2 linked regions of the Homo sapiens genome follow. The protein of the gene in region 2 interacts with the protein of the main gene of each other region in a pairwise test. Each region holds a gene or a part of one and is shown on either strand. Other genes may lie near its edges.

Region 1 (7,022 bases), on a different chromosome or scaffold from region 2:
ACTGAGGAAAAAAAAGATTTCTCCTTAACCTCCTACTAAAAACTAAAATTAAGGGGACCCTATAAACAAGTCAGGCAGCCAACATGATAAGGGCAATTTTGGCAAAATATGACTGGGCTGAGTAGAGAGGTATCTCAGAGACAGCTAGCATCTTTGTTGGTCAAACCCTAGTATGAATAATTCAGTGCTCTTCATCAGATGAAAGGCCTTCAATTTCATCTCTGTCTCCCCCGATTGCCATCCAGAATGCTTTGGCCACCTGTGGAGAGAAGCATGCAACAAATTTTAGGCAACAGCTACATTTCAGCTTGTTTCATATGTCATACCTTAAACTGACTGAGACCTAAAATTCTGCACTTTGCCCTCCAGTCCTCTGGCAACACATATCAGAACCCTTGAATACCATTTGACCCATGATCGCCACATCTAGAAATTTATACCAAGGATATATTTAGAGTTGTATACAAAGATGATGTGTAAAGACATGCACAGCTTTGTTATTTATAGAAGCAAAAAATGCACATGACCTAAATGTCCAAAAGGGAACAGGATAAATTATGACACATATCAGGGAACACCATCAACCATACAAGTTTCCTGCCAATAGCATGTGTTGTGTTGGTAATAATAAAACAAAACAACTAAGAGTTTTCTGGCCCAATAGTTAGAAAGGCAAACATCCTGAGTCTCAATAAAGGTTCCACATCACTCACCATCCAGGTGAAAAATCTTGGTTTGACTGCAGCAACTATACTATTACTGTATAAATATTTAATTAGTTAGAAGTTAATATTCAATGAAAAGCTCACACTAAGACCCTTCAGAAATACACAAGTGTGATATATAATTATAATAATAGCACTGGACCTTTTATAGGTATTCAATAAATACCTGGCTGATTGTCTCACCTTTTCTGCATGCACTTTTCTTTGCTCATGAGGAAGCGTCGCAGCCTTGTCTAGGGGGAAAATATATCTTAAGAAATTTGTCTAATAGCACAGGATAACCTGGAGTATATGAATAACACTAGAAGATGGGAGACGGGTTTCAAAGACATGTTTATGATGTAGTCATTACATGTATTAGGAAGTTTTTAAGTCTTCCAAATTTTCCAGATGGGAATGATGTGAGTAAATTGGTAGGGATCTTACAGTTTCCACCTTATGTAACACATTGAAAGAAACAAGGCAAAAGCAGGAAAAGTAAAAAGAAAGAGAACGAAGATGGAAAAATTTTCCCCAGGGAATTTTTTTTTTTTACCAAGTCCCAGGAGTAGCTAAGTTTCTCAAGACAGCTGAGACCAGAACAAGGAATCCAATCCAGCAGTTAACAAAATAAAATGCTACTACGTAAAACAGACAAGCATCAACATGGGAACATATTAGACACAATGGATCTGATTACCTTTCATTTCCTTTAACTTTGAAAAGAGTCTTTCAAAATTCTCCACATCTCCTCCTCCAGTGGTAAGACTGGCTAATTCTTGAATATCCAGATCTAACATGGGATCTGAAATAGGGATTTGTCACATTATCTGTCACGTTATTTGCATATGTGCTACACTCAGAGAATCCTAAGGCAAATGCTAACCTTGATGAAGTCACCAATGATCGAAGGCCCAGTGTATACCAGCTTTACAGCTCATGGCTCACCCTGCTTGGCTGCTAGTGGGCCCTCACAAATGAAGAGTAACTATTTTATCCTCACAACATCGTCATGAGGTAAGGAGTACTATTTCCATTTTAAAGATGAGAAAACCACATCTCAGAGTTGAAGTGACTTGCCGAGGTGACAGCTAGTAAGTTGATTCAGACGCAGGTGTTTCCAACTCGGAAAGCATACTCACTCCACTAAGGTACACTGATTCACCAATAATGACTAAAGTTTATGCCATATTTTACTGTACAACAAATATTTTCACATCTATTACCGACAACCACTATAAAAGGTGATTAGAACAGATAACATTATCTGAGAATAACAGAAATGATATGAAAAAAAAACCTGTATCTAAAAATGAACTCATCTAAAATTACAGCTATTCAGAGGTAGAGCTGATTTAAATTCATATTTTCTTACTACAAATCTTTTACTGTTTCTACCTTGGCACACTGCTTCTTTATTAAAGTTTGTTTTTAATCAGAATTTTAACTCCTTCTCCACTCCAGGCCCACTATGTTTAGAATGTCTTCCCTGCCCATCCCACTTTCACAGGTCTCCTTCCTTAGAATTCTTTCTACACTTATTGTTTCCAGAACTGTCTTAGCACTTGCATATATTACCTTGTATTCTAACATTTCTCCACCACTACTTTAATAAGTACTACTACCATAAGAGAGAATTTGCTTTGGATCTGCACCACTGAATGCTTTAACTTACATGGTTCCACTGCATCTTTGCAACAGCCCTATGAGGAAAGATTTATCACCGTTATTTTACAGAAGAGGAAACTAATGCCAACAGAGGTTAATTTATTCAAGGTAAGGCCATTACTAGCGATAAAGCCATGATTTGAACCCAGCTGTACAGGACTCCAATGACTATGACCTTAACCATTACATTATAGGTCCTATCTCTATATTTTTAGACTAAGCTCCATGAAGATAGGATGATGACTTATAATTATTTGCATCTATCACAATGCCATATAGACAATTTGGTGTTAAAAACGCATCTTGGTTAATATATTTGCTTTCGTTCAATGGACATGTCATGTAGGAAGTTGGTATATAGGGCTGAAGATAAAAGTTTGTGATTTATCTGTGTATACATAGTAATTGAGCTGTTAATGTAGACAGAATCACTCCATGCCTAAATATAGATTTGGAAGAGTTTAAATGCAGCAATGAAGAATGACAATATTTAAAGGCTGGGTAAAGAAGGGTATCTACCAAAGAAAGAGAAGGAATAATCAGAGAAGTAGGAAGAAAACCAGGCGACACCGTGTTGGGTGAGGCATGGGAAGAAAATGTTTCAAAGAGGAATTGATCTGTAACACTGAATGCTGCCACGAGGTCAAGATGAGGACTGGAAAATATCTACCCGATTTAGCGGCATGGAGGTCATTGCTGGCCTTTGCACAGAGCTGTTGTAGTGGCATACCAGGGGCAAAAGACAGACATGAGTGAGGTGAGGAGCAAATGGGAGGTGAGGAATGGAAACAAGTTTAGTAAAGAGATAAGGAGGAAGATGTGGAAATGTTTGGTTTTTGTTGATTTGGTTTTGCCTTAAATCTTTTTCTTAATTTACTCTTAAAAAAAAACTTGCAAAAATAGTACACAGAGTTTCTATATGCTCTTCACCCACTTTCCCCTAGTGTTAACATCGTTTATGACCATGGTACAATTATAAAAATCAAGAAGTTAATATTGGTATAATGCCATTAACCATGCCATAGACTTCATCGGTTTTTCCACTAATATCCTTTTTCTGTTCCAAGATCCTACATGGAATTTAGTTGTCAAATCTCCTTAGTCTTCTCCAATTTGTGACAGTTCCTCAGTCTTTCACGACTTTAACACTTGTATGTCAGTTATTTTGTATAATGTCCCTTAATTGGGTTTGTCAGATTGTTTTCTTATTATTAGATTGCAGTTATGCATTTTTGGTGAGATTACCTTCTCACTGCATCCTATCAGGAGGGCTATTATGTCAATATGTCTTATTACCAGTGATGTTAACCTTCATTACATAATTAAAGTGGCTGGCATCTGATGAGTTTCTCCAGTGTAAAGTTACTATTTTCCCCTTTGTAATAAATAAACATCTTGAGAGAGATACTTTTAGACTATGCAGATATACTACTTCTCCTCAAACTTTCACCTATGCTACCAAGAACTATTACTGTGTTTTGTGCCTAATGATGGCTTTCTATTTTCCTCATTCCTTCTATATTTATTACTTGGGATTCTTCTGGAAGGAGATGCTGTCCTTTCTTTCTCATTTGTTTATTCAATTATTTATTTATATTAGTATGAACTCATGGATACTTAGCTTACTCTATGGGTTATAACCCAATACTATATTAATCTACTTTGCTGGTCAAATTGTTCCAGATTTAGCCACTGGAAGCTCTTTCAGGTTGGTCCCTATGCCCTTTCAACATGTCCCCATTCTTTTTTGAGAATTTTCTTAATTTCTGGTACCAAGAGATGCTCCAGGGTCATCCTGTATTTTTCTTGCCCAAGTCCTGGAATCAACCACTTCTCCAAGGAGCCCTAGTTCCTTTTATTGGAGAATGGTATTTAGAAAGCAAGATCTGGCCAGGCGCAGTGGCTCACGCCTGTAATCCAAGCACTTTGGGAGGTCGAGGCAGGTGGATCACCTGAGGTCGGGAGTTTGAGACCAGCCTGACCAACACGCAGAAACCCCGTCTCTACTAAAAAACAACACAAAACAAAATTAGCTGGGCGTGGTGGCACATGCCTGTAATCCCAGCCACTCAGGAGGCTGAGGCAGGAGAATCGCTTGAACCCAGGAAGCGAGATTGCGGTGAGCCGAGATCGTGCCACTGCACTCCACCCTGGGCAACAAGAGCGAAACTCCATCTCAAACAAAAACAAAAACAAAAACACAACAACACACACACACAAAAAGAAAGCAAGATCTGAGTGCTAAGTGTGTCCACTGCTATGGTGGTATTGTTGCTTCTAGGCCTCTCAGTGGACAGAACTAGGAAATATATGTGTGTATACTAATACACGCATATACACACACATCTGTATTTATTTTCTTAACTGTAAGTATATTTTTAAAGCCATGAGTTCATACTGATACATTAGATTCCAATCCAGTACCAAAGGGTACATCTTGGCCTTCCCTTTTCCTTATTTGTAACCTTTTTCCTCTGGCAGTGAGAAACCTAACTCTCACTATCTATATTTTTTATTTTCTATATGTCAGTATATGTGTGGTGTATAAAATATCTATATATAAAATTTCAGAATTGCTGAGCCATGCTCCTATAAGAAACAAATTTACTAAGTAGAGTTCAGTATCTGTGTTCAGTTATTTTTGTTTTTAGCCTTACGGTATCTAGTCCAATTACTGTTTTCTAAAGTTACTTAGGTTAGTGCTTCAAGTCCCCACCCACTTCAGTGTGATTACTAGTTTGTTTTAATGGCAGAGACTCTGGCAGGTTTAAAAGCCAATGGGAAGGATTCAATTGAGAGGCTAAGGATGAATAAACTGGAAAGAAAAAAAATTATACATAATTTTTTCTTCTTCTTCATATGTTTCTATAACCAATCACTTGAGTTTTCTACATGAATTATCTCATAAGAAAAAAGAGTTTTAAAAATTTATTACTGCACATGAGCCGTCTGTAGCATAAAGATAAAGTAGGAATATCAGTAGTTCCCCAGCGAAAGAAGATTTATAGTTATTGTCAAGTAAGCTCCTTGGTTTTCTGGCTTTTGGACAGCATACTGGATTCCAGCTTCAGCTCCAGGCCCTTCTTGCTAGATGTCCTTGGACAAGTTATTAAACTTCTCTGCAAAACTTCATTACCAAATGAGAAAGGGGATATAAAATAACTTTAAAAGCATATGGAAGGGCTTATAAATATAAAGTTGTATTATTCTTGTCACCATCGATTCTGACTTCTGTTAAATATTATGAAAAAACTACGTGATACAGAGCTAGCTGTTTCGCCACCTGGTTCGGTCTGCCTTGGCTAAGATTATCTGAATCAAGATCCTGCTAGGAGAATTAAAGAGAAAATGGTACCCACATATTTGTTATATATTTATTCTTCTTCCTTTTTCTGATAGCCACTGGCAAGGCTCACATTCATGTGTGGTATACTACCAATTTTTTTCCCTTCTCTGTGTTTAAAGTCAATTTCCCCCTCAACAATTTCTGCCCAGATACCTATTCCAAGTTGCACAAAGCTCTCTCTTGGCAGCCAAAGGAGGAACTTACCCACAATGCTATCAACCTGGGCATCTGTTGTGTTAGATGCACCACCCCGATGATCAGAGAGGGATTCAGTACTATCTGCTGCTGGCAAATGGGGTTGCTGTTGAGGAAAATACACATAAGCAACAATTTAATCGTAGTCTATTTCAGAACTAAATCCAAAAAAGCTCACACTTTCAGTCCTTGGTTGGCTTGAGAAAAGAGTAATAGGAACTGGAGGCAAAGAAAGAAGAGCAAGATCACATTAAAAAAATAAAAGGCTAAAACTTAACTAACCCAGAAGTACTTTCCCCCAAGGAAGAACTAGAAAGCGTTGATTTTGCTTTAGACTACTAAAACATGTTTTTTGTTTGTCTCATTTAAGATCCATGTTATATTCAAAATGTGAAAATGTAACACAATCGTAACACAAATAGCTCAGAGGCTGTTGAAAAAGATCCCTGGAAAGACAATGTGGCACTGTATAATTTGCTCTTGGCTCCAGCTGCTGACCAAGGTAAACCTGGAACAAAGTTCTTAAGGATGCAGGGTTGAAACTGGACTACAAGCTCATTGAGGACAGGGACCTTGCCTCAGATTTGCCAAGGTCTTTTACACAGGAAGTACTAAAAAAGCACCATGAATTTTATTTTCTATTTAAAGATCTGAAGGCAAATTAATGCCTCAGGGAAATCCTAGCATATTTTAGAAAGCACCCTAGTAAAAATAAAACCAAAGCTGTAAACATCTTGAAAGGGCTTACTGCTTTAGCAAGGGCTGTTTTAGACCTTCCTTTCATCTATTTTTAACATTCTCTGTCACCTTTTAAATGGAAAGGAAAACAATGGTGAATGTGTCAAGATTCATAATGACAAGGAGAAATTAAAGCCAAAGAGGGAAAAAAGATCCAAGAAAAACCTTTACCTCTGGGTGACAGGGATCTGCTGACCCAATGCTATGGTTTGTTCCAGTCAATGAGTTGAGAAGGCTAAAGCCTTGGTTCCTATCTGAAAAGGAAAAATACACTTAGTGAAATTTGTCATTTACATTTTAAACTGTTCAAATGGCTATGATGATGAAACAAAGGCTACTTATTTGTTACCAAAGTTCTAACTACATATATA
Region 2 (7,537 bases):
ATAAAAAAAAAAAAAATTAGGCAGGCGTGGTGGTGGGCGCCTGTAGTCCCAGCTACTCGGGAGGCTGAGGCAGAAGAATGGCATGAACCCAGGAGGCAGAGCTTGCAGTGAGCCGAGATAGTGCCATTGCACTCCAACCTGGGAGACAGAGCAAGACTCCGCCTGGGGGAAAAAAAAAAAAAAAGGAATAGGCCGGGCGCAGTGGCTCACGCCTGTAATTCCCAGCACTTTGGGAGGCCAAGGCGGGTGGATCACGAGGTCGGGAGTTCAAGACCAGCCTGGCCAAGATGGTGAAACTCCGTCTCTACTAAAAATACAAAAAATTAGCCAGGTGCCTGCAATCCCAGCTACTCAGGACGCTGAGACAGAGAATTGTTTGAACCCGGGAGGCGAAGGTTGCAGTAAGCCGAGATCACACCACTGCACTCTAGCCTGGGCAACACAGCGAGACTCTATCTCAAAAAAAAAAAAAAAAAAAAAACTGGCCGGGCACAGTGGCTCACACTTGTAATCTCAACACTTTGGGGGCCCAAGGCAGGCGCATCACTTGAGGTCAGGAGTTCAAGACCAGCCTGGCCAACACGGCGAAACTCTGTCTCTACTAAAAATTCAAAACCGCCCAGGCACAGTGGCTCATGCCTGTAATCCCAGCACTTTGAGAGGCCGAGGTGGGTGGATTGCTTGAGGTCAGGAGTTTGAGAATAGCCTGGCCAAAATGGTGAAACCCCAGCTGGGCGCGGTGGCTCACACCTGTAATCCCAGCATTTTGGGAGGCCGAGGCTAGCGGATCACAAGGTCAAGAGATCAAGACCATTCTGGTCAACATGGTGAAAGTCCGTCTCTACTAAAAAAAATACAAAAATTAGCCGGGCATGGTGGTGCGCGCATCTGTAGTCCAAGCTGCTCGGGAGGCTGAGGCAGGAGAATCACTTGAACCTGGGAGGCAGAGGTTGCAGTGAGCAGAGATCGCACCACTGCACTCTAGCCTGGCAACAGAGGAAGACTCAGTCTCAAAAAAAAAAAAATGGTGAAACCCCATCTCTACCAAAAATACAAAAATTAGCCGGGCATGGTGGTGCGCTCCTGTAATCCCAGCTACTCCGGAGGCTGAGGCAGGAGAATCGCTTGAACCCAGGAGACAGAGGCTGCGGTTAACCAAGATTGCGCCACTGCACTCCAGCCTGGGTGAGAGAATGAGACTCCATCTCCAAAAAAAAAAAAGAAAAGAAAAGAAACACGTACTTGCTATTTCAGCTACATTACATGAAACACAAAGGCGGTCCACAGAAAAAGCAAAACATAAATCCTAATACAGTGCCGCCTGCCCTAAGGAGCTCAAAGTTCTTTAGATATGCTAAATAACTAATCCTCATTACACCCTTGTGCTGCCATCAGAGGGATTTTAAAGGTAAGAAAAACACCCCACAACGCAAAAACAAAAGCCAGGCACCCCATGTTGGCTGTTGGTCTCTACACTTCTAAGCAAACCCGTAGACAGACACCAAAGCTTAGGGTGGGTGAGAAGAAAGGTAAATGGGGAGTATCCTGAAGCCAAGCACAGAGATGAACACAAAACCATCACAACTCGGAGTCTGAATTTCAGGCAAAGATGAAGACTCCAGGCTCTCGACAGGGCTACAATTTGAAAAGGTGGGAAAGGGCTGGGCGCAGTGGCTCACACCTATAAATCCCAGCACTCTGGGAGGCTGATGGGGGAGGATCACTTGAGCCAAGGAGTTCAAGACCATCCTGGGCAACATAGTGAGACCCTGTCTCTAAATTTTAAATATAAATATAAAAAATTTAAAAGTGGGAAACAAAGGAGAGTAGAATCAGGATCTGACCCAAACCCCCGGCTAGAAGTGTTATTCCTAAGAACGCACCCAGCAGGAGGTCTGCCACTCGACCTGGAGTTTCGACCTGGAGTTTCCTGAGGTATCGGGGTGGGGGCGCTGAGGGAGCTACATGGGGCAGAAAGAACCTAGCATGGGAGTCAGGACTTCCCTGGCCTCAGGGACACACAGCAGCTGTGGGCACAGCACTCCTCCTAAAATCCCGGAGCACCCACCAGCCCCTCAGCCCACCCCTGGCACCCTGTGCTCCTGCCACCTTCCCAGCCTGCTGAAGCCTTGATACCCCCAACCATTCCCACACTCCAATCACCAGGTAAGGGGAAGTGCAGGCTCCAAAAGGCAACAAACGTTTAAAATCGAGAATCAACTGAACAGAAGATACAAGTTCCCCTCTGCCAACAATGTTTCAGGAAAAAGCGTGCAAAGCTGGCAGAAAGTCATGTCTGAATACAGAAGCATGGTTCCAAGCTCCCTGTGTCTCTGGGGTCATCCCCGCTCCTGAGTGCCCACGAGTCACTGGAACTCGCCTCTCCCACCCTGGTGCTGGGCATCTCACTGCCTCACACTCTTCTTGGTCCTCTTCCCAATTCAAGTCTCCAGGGCGCTATTTAAAATAGGGCTGCTTCCTACTCACATGCTATTTCTTCTATGCGTCTTGGCCAGACCCTTACAACCCTGTCCCAAGCACAGAGCTCATCTTACCACACAGCTTCAGCCCCCACTTCTACACGGGAACACCCACCTCAACCTATCCCACCCACCCGGAAATTCTCTCGTGACAAAACTGCACATACTGCTTTTCAAGACGTTTCAACCAGCTCAGCTTTCAAGCTAAAGTCAGGAAGGTTCTGAAGAAGGAACATGCTGCCAGAATCAGCAAATGTGGTTTTATAATCTAAGTCTGGGACATCATGTGGCCTGGTAAAAACTGTTCATTTCTGGGGTTTTTTGTTTGTTTGTTTTTGAGACGGAGTCTTACTTTGTCGCCCTGGCTATAGTGCAGTGGCGCAATCTTGGCTTACTGCAACCTCCGCCTCCCAAATTCAAGTGATTCTCCTGCCTCAGCCTCCCAAGTACCTGGGATTACAGACACGTGCCACCACACCTGGCTAATTTTGTATTTTTAGTAGAGACATGTTTTTCCATGTTGGTCAGGCTGGTCTCGAACTCCCGACCTCAGGTGATCCACCTGGCTCGGACTCCCGAAGTGCTGGGATTACAGGCGTGAACCGCAGCGCCCGGCGTATTTGATTTTTTTAAGAGCCAAGGAAATGCCATTTAATCCTTCACTGACAGCCTTTCCAGGAACTCTTCTACTACAAAATCTTGACACAGATTGTTACCAAAAGTAACAGTTCATTTTAAGAGGAAAGAGAAGTAATAGTAAGTATCTGGCACAAAATATGTTCACCACCAGGACACTTCAACTTGTCATAAAAGAAAGTGATCCTGACCTTCAGAGGAGCCAGACGGAAAACACTGTGAAGAGAACCAGGGTGTCCCAGAAGCAGTGACCACCAACCTTGGCAAGAAAAATTCAACCCGAGCAAGGACTTCCTTCCTTCTCTCCATAGCCACCATGACACATTTCCTAAACTGGTTTCTAAGGAACACACATTATGCAGAAGCATGCAAAAGAAGACATGCAAGGAGAGCATTCTTTTCTAAGAGTCAGCACTTTTTAGGAATGTACAGTCAAAAGGACAAAATGAGCTTTTAACTGTGAAGGTTATTTAAGAAATGCAAAAGCAGACTGACCAATTCTGATGCTGATCTTCACTCGTCTGCACGAAAATCAGTATAACTTTATGTTTAATTTTTATACTGAAGTTTAAGCAGAGTTTAAAATTTAGTGTTCAGTTTCTCCATATCTAATTTATGACTCCATAACTGGAATTGCATGAACAAATAAAATTTAACTTTAGTCCCACTGAAACACAATTCAAAGGGTATCTAATTTCAAGAAAGTTAACAGAAATGGCCAGGCACAGGGGCTCACGCCTGTAATCCCAGCACTTTGGGAGGCCGAGGCAGGTGGATCACTTGAGGCCAAGAGTTCGAGACCAGCCTGACCAACTTGGTGAAACCACGTCTCCACAAAAATTAGCTAGGCGTGGTGGCAGACACCTGTAATCCCAGCTACTCGGGAGACTGAGGCACAAGAATCACTTGAACCTGGCCGGGCGTGGTGGCTCACGAGGTCAGGAGATCGAGATCATCCTGGCTAATACAGTGAAACCCTGTCTCTACTAAAAAATACAAAAAATTAGCCGGGCGTGGTGGTGGCGGAGCCCCAGCTACTCAGGAGGCTGAGGCACAAGAATCACTTGGACCCAGGAGGCAGAGGTTGCAGTGAGCCGAGATCACACCGCTGCACTCCAGCCTGGGTGACAGAGGGAGACTCTGCCTCAAAAAAAAAAAAAAAAAAACAAGAAATGGAAGGGACCAAGTTTTATGCCAACCACAATGAGCAGAGCACTGATAATTTTTCTAATTTATCGTGAAACCTGCAGCAAAACTGTATCACTTTCTTCAAGACCATGGAAATTCATTTTTGCCATCTTGCTAATAACATCTCTCCATCTGTTTCCCCTTCATGTGAGGACCTGGGGGGGTTAAAGAAAACGCCTCCAAGCATCTGCACCACACCAGCACCACATGTAGAGAAATAAAAATGGTCATTTCCTGCCTGAAGTTGTTTTCCTGGCAAACTGACCGGTCTCAAAAGGACTTATCACTTCTTCCCTTTCCTTGCAGTCCTGATTGTTTTGCAGTCAATTCTCAGAGCCTGACAACATTTTCAGCAGTGCTGTGTCTCTCCAACAATATTCTAGTGTTGGCATGTCAACAGCAATGCATAAAGACATGCATTCACTAAGTTAGATACAACTCTCCTCTGCAGATATGTCATTTGTGTAAAAACAAACGAAAGTTCCAAAATAACTGAATAAATAGCAAATAATTATGGTCTTGTTTCCCCAATTTCAGCAGTTATTTTGTTTTCTCGGTATCTTTTGCTCAAATACAATGTCAATCAATGCACCAGCCTGAATGGACCTCGATGGGACTGTACTGAGGGGGAAAAAAGCAATCTCAAAAGATCACATATGATGTGATTCCCTTTATATGACATCCTTGAGCCCACAAAATTACAGAGATGGAGAACAGATTAGTTTCAGGAGTATGGCTATAAGGGGTAGCTTTGTGATGATGGTATAGTTCTGTATCTTGACTGAGGTAGGGAACCGGTTACACAAAGCTACAGGTGCTAAACTGCATAGAACCACACACACACACGTGCATGTCGATCTAACGAAATCTGAATATGCCTGGTGGTGTGTACCAGTGTCTGTTTCCTGGTGTTGAATATGTCCTGTAGTTATGCAAGATGTCCACATTAAGAAAGGTAGGGCACCAGGCACAGTGGCTCACGCCTGTAATCCCAGCACTTTGGGAGGCCGAGGCCGGTGGATCACGAGGTCAGGAGACCGAGACCATCCTGGCTAACACGGTGAAACCCCGTCTCTACTAAAAATACAAAAAATTAGCCGGGCGTGGTGGCGTGCACCTGTAGTCCCAGCTACTCGGGAGGCTGAGGCAGCAGAATGGTGTGAACCCGGGAGGCGGAGCTTGCAGTGAGCCGAGATCGCGCCACTGCACTCCAGCCTGGGCGACAGAGCGCAACTCCGTCTCAAAAAAAAAAAAATTCTAAAACTGGGACTAAATAAAAGGACTAGAATTTTTTTAATGCCAATTTAAAAAAAAAGAAACAGTTTATTAACTCTCACACACTGAATGCATGCTGACCAAATGCAGTGGCCGCTGGGTTGACGTCAATCAGAAAGGATGAAGTTAATTTTAGGAGACATTAAGTTAGTTCACTACCTGAGCCACAAAAGCTACAACTTTGAGGGGCAGAGCTTGACACGAGGCACCTTTTCAAATCCTGGAGCATATTCATTGCTGCCTATGCTAAGAGGAGTAATGCCCCAAGCCAGTCTGCTGGGAGTGGGTTACTTGAAGTGAAAACAGAGCATCCTAGTGTCCACATGCTCCCTGTCCGCTACCTCAGATACTTGGCACAGGGCTTTTTTTTTTTTTTTTTTTTTTTGAGACAGAGTCTCGCTCTGTCACCCAGGCTGGAGTGCAATGGCACAATCTCAGCTCACTGCAAGCTCCGCCTCCTGGGTTCAAGCGATTCTTCCGCCTCAGCCCCCGGAGTAGCTGGGACTACAGGTGCATGCCACCACGCCCAGCTAATGTTTGTATTTTTGTGGAAACAGTGTTTCCCTATGTTGGCTAGGCTGGTCTTGAACTCCTGACCTCAGGTGATCCGCCCACCTCAGCCTCCCAAAGTGCTGGGATTACAAGCGTGAGCCACCGCACCCGGCTGGCACCAGGTCTTGGAGGGGAAAAACTTTTTTTTTGAGGCAGGGTCTCAATCTGCTCCTCAGGCTGCCCAGGCTGGAGTGCAGTGGCGCAATCCGAGTTCATGGCAGCCTCAACCTCCAGGGCTCAGACAATGCTCTCACCTCAGCCCACTGAGTAACTGGGACCACAGGTGCGTGCCACCACGCCTGGCTAATTCTTTTTTCTCTTTTGAAAAGACAGGGGTCTCACTATATTGCCCAGGCTAAAGGAGGAAAACTTAAGAAACTGGTCAGAAAGACGCAAATTTGGAGCTGAAACAGGCTTTAACGATATTTCAGCTCAAAATCCGCCCCTTCAAGCGTCAGCTGAGGAAACTGAGGCTCCGTGGCTAGTGGCCTCCACTCACGCAGCTTTAATGATATTTCAGCTGAAAATCCAGCCCTTCAACTGTCCGCTGTGGAAACTGAGGCTCCATGGCCAGTGGCCTCCACTCATGCAGCTGCTAAGAGGCAGAGTCAGGGTCAAGAGCCTTGGCTGTTGGCTCAGAGTCCTCTTTCCACAGGGCCCGACTACTCCTATCATTCACTCTCATGACAGGAAAACAGCACACAAAATCAGAGCTGGCCAGGGAAAGGGGAAGCGGGGACCCCTCTGCCTGTGACATGGAGGTCAAGTTCAGATCAGCTCAAACCCTGGCTGGCTCTCCAATCCCGTCTCCAGGCACCAGCCAACATTCATTAACTCAATACGTATATACATTAATTATTTGCTGTTCCTCTAATACCTTCTTGGTCTTCTGCCTGAATTGCCCAAGAATCACCTTCCTTGTGAGGTCTTCTCTGGCATGCACCTCGCATGCCAGACGCTCGCCATGAGGAGAACAGCAGGAAAAATGTGATGAGCAAGATAGGGTGCGCACCTTGTAGAGGCCACCCTAGAGGGCAGTGGGGGAGATGGGGCCACTCAGGTGAAAAGCAGCACCACAAGCTGAAGACACTGCCCAGGAGGAGAATGGTGGGCGCTGCAGCTGATGAGAGGCCATCCAACAGCAATGAGGGAAAGAGGATTCCGAGAAAGGGGCCGTATTAAAGAGACCTGGCTCCCCCAGCTAGGACTAAGCACCCCTTCTTCTACGAGCTCCTTCAGGGGAGGGGCTGTGTTATTCAATGGGATACACTAGTGGTTCTCGACGGCGGACAACTTTGCCCTAAGGGCACATTTGTCAATGCCTGGAGACATTGTTCCTTATCACAACTAAGGCAACTGGTGCTGCTATAAACATCCTAAAAGGCACAGAACAGTTCCCCACAATA

The links.
Region 1: the proteins of AP2A2 (region 2) and AAGAB interact in binary tests that used the Homo sapiens proteins (3 or more experiments, as listed by UniProt).

Annotation. Positions count from the first base shown.
Region 1 is NC_000015.10:67,202,640-67,209,661, forward strand, and holds part of AAGAB (alpha- and gamma-adaptin-binding protein p34), read right to left. Parts: intron 6,906-7,022; coding exon 6,823-6,905; intron 6,020-6,822; coding exon 5,923-6,019; intron 1,510-5,922; coding exon 1,405-1,509; intron 959-1,404; coding exon 909-958; intron 260-908; coding exon 182-259; 3' UTR 1-181. UniProt on the Homo sapiens protein: May be involved in endocytic recycling of growth factor receptors such as EGFR.
Region 2 is NC_000011.10:928,548-936,084, reverse strand, and holds part of AP2A2 (AP-2 complex subunit alpha-2), read right to left. Parts: intron 2,561-7,537; exon of another isoform or gene 2,488-2,560; intron 1-2,487. UniProt on the Homo sapiens protein: Component of the adaptor protein complex 2 (AP-2). Adaptor protein complexes function in protein transport via transport vesicles in different membrane traffic pathways.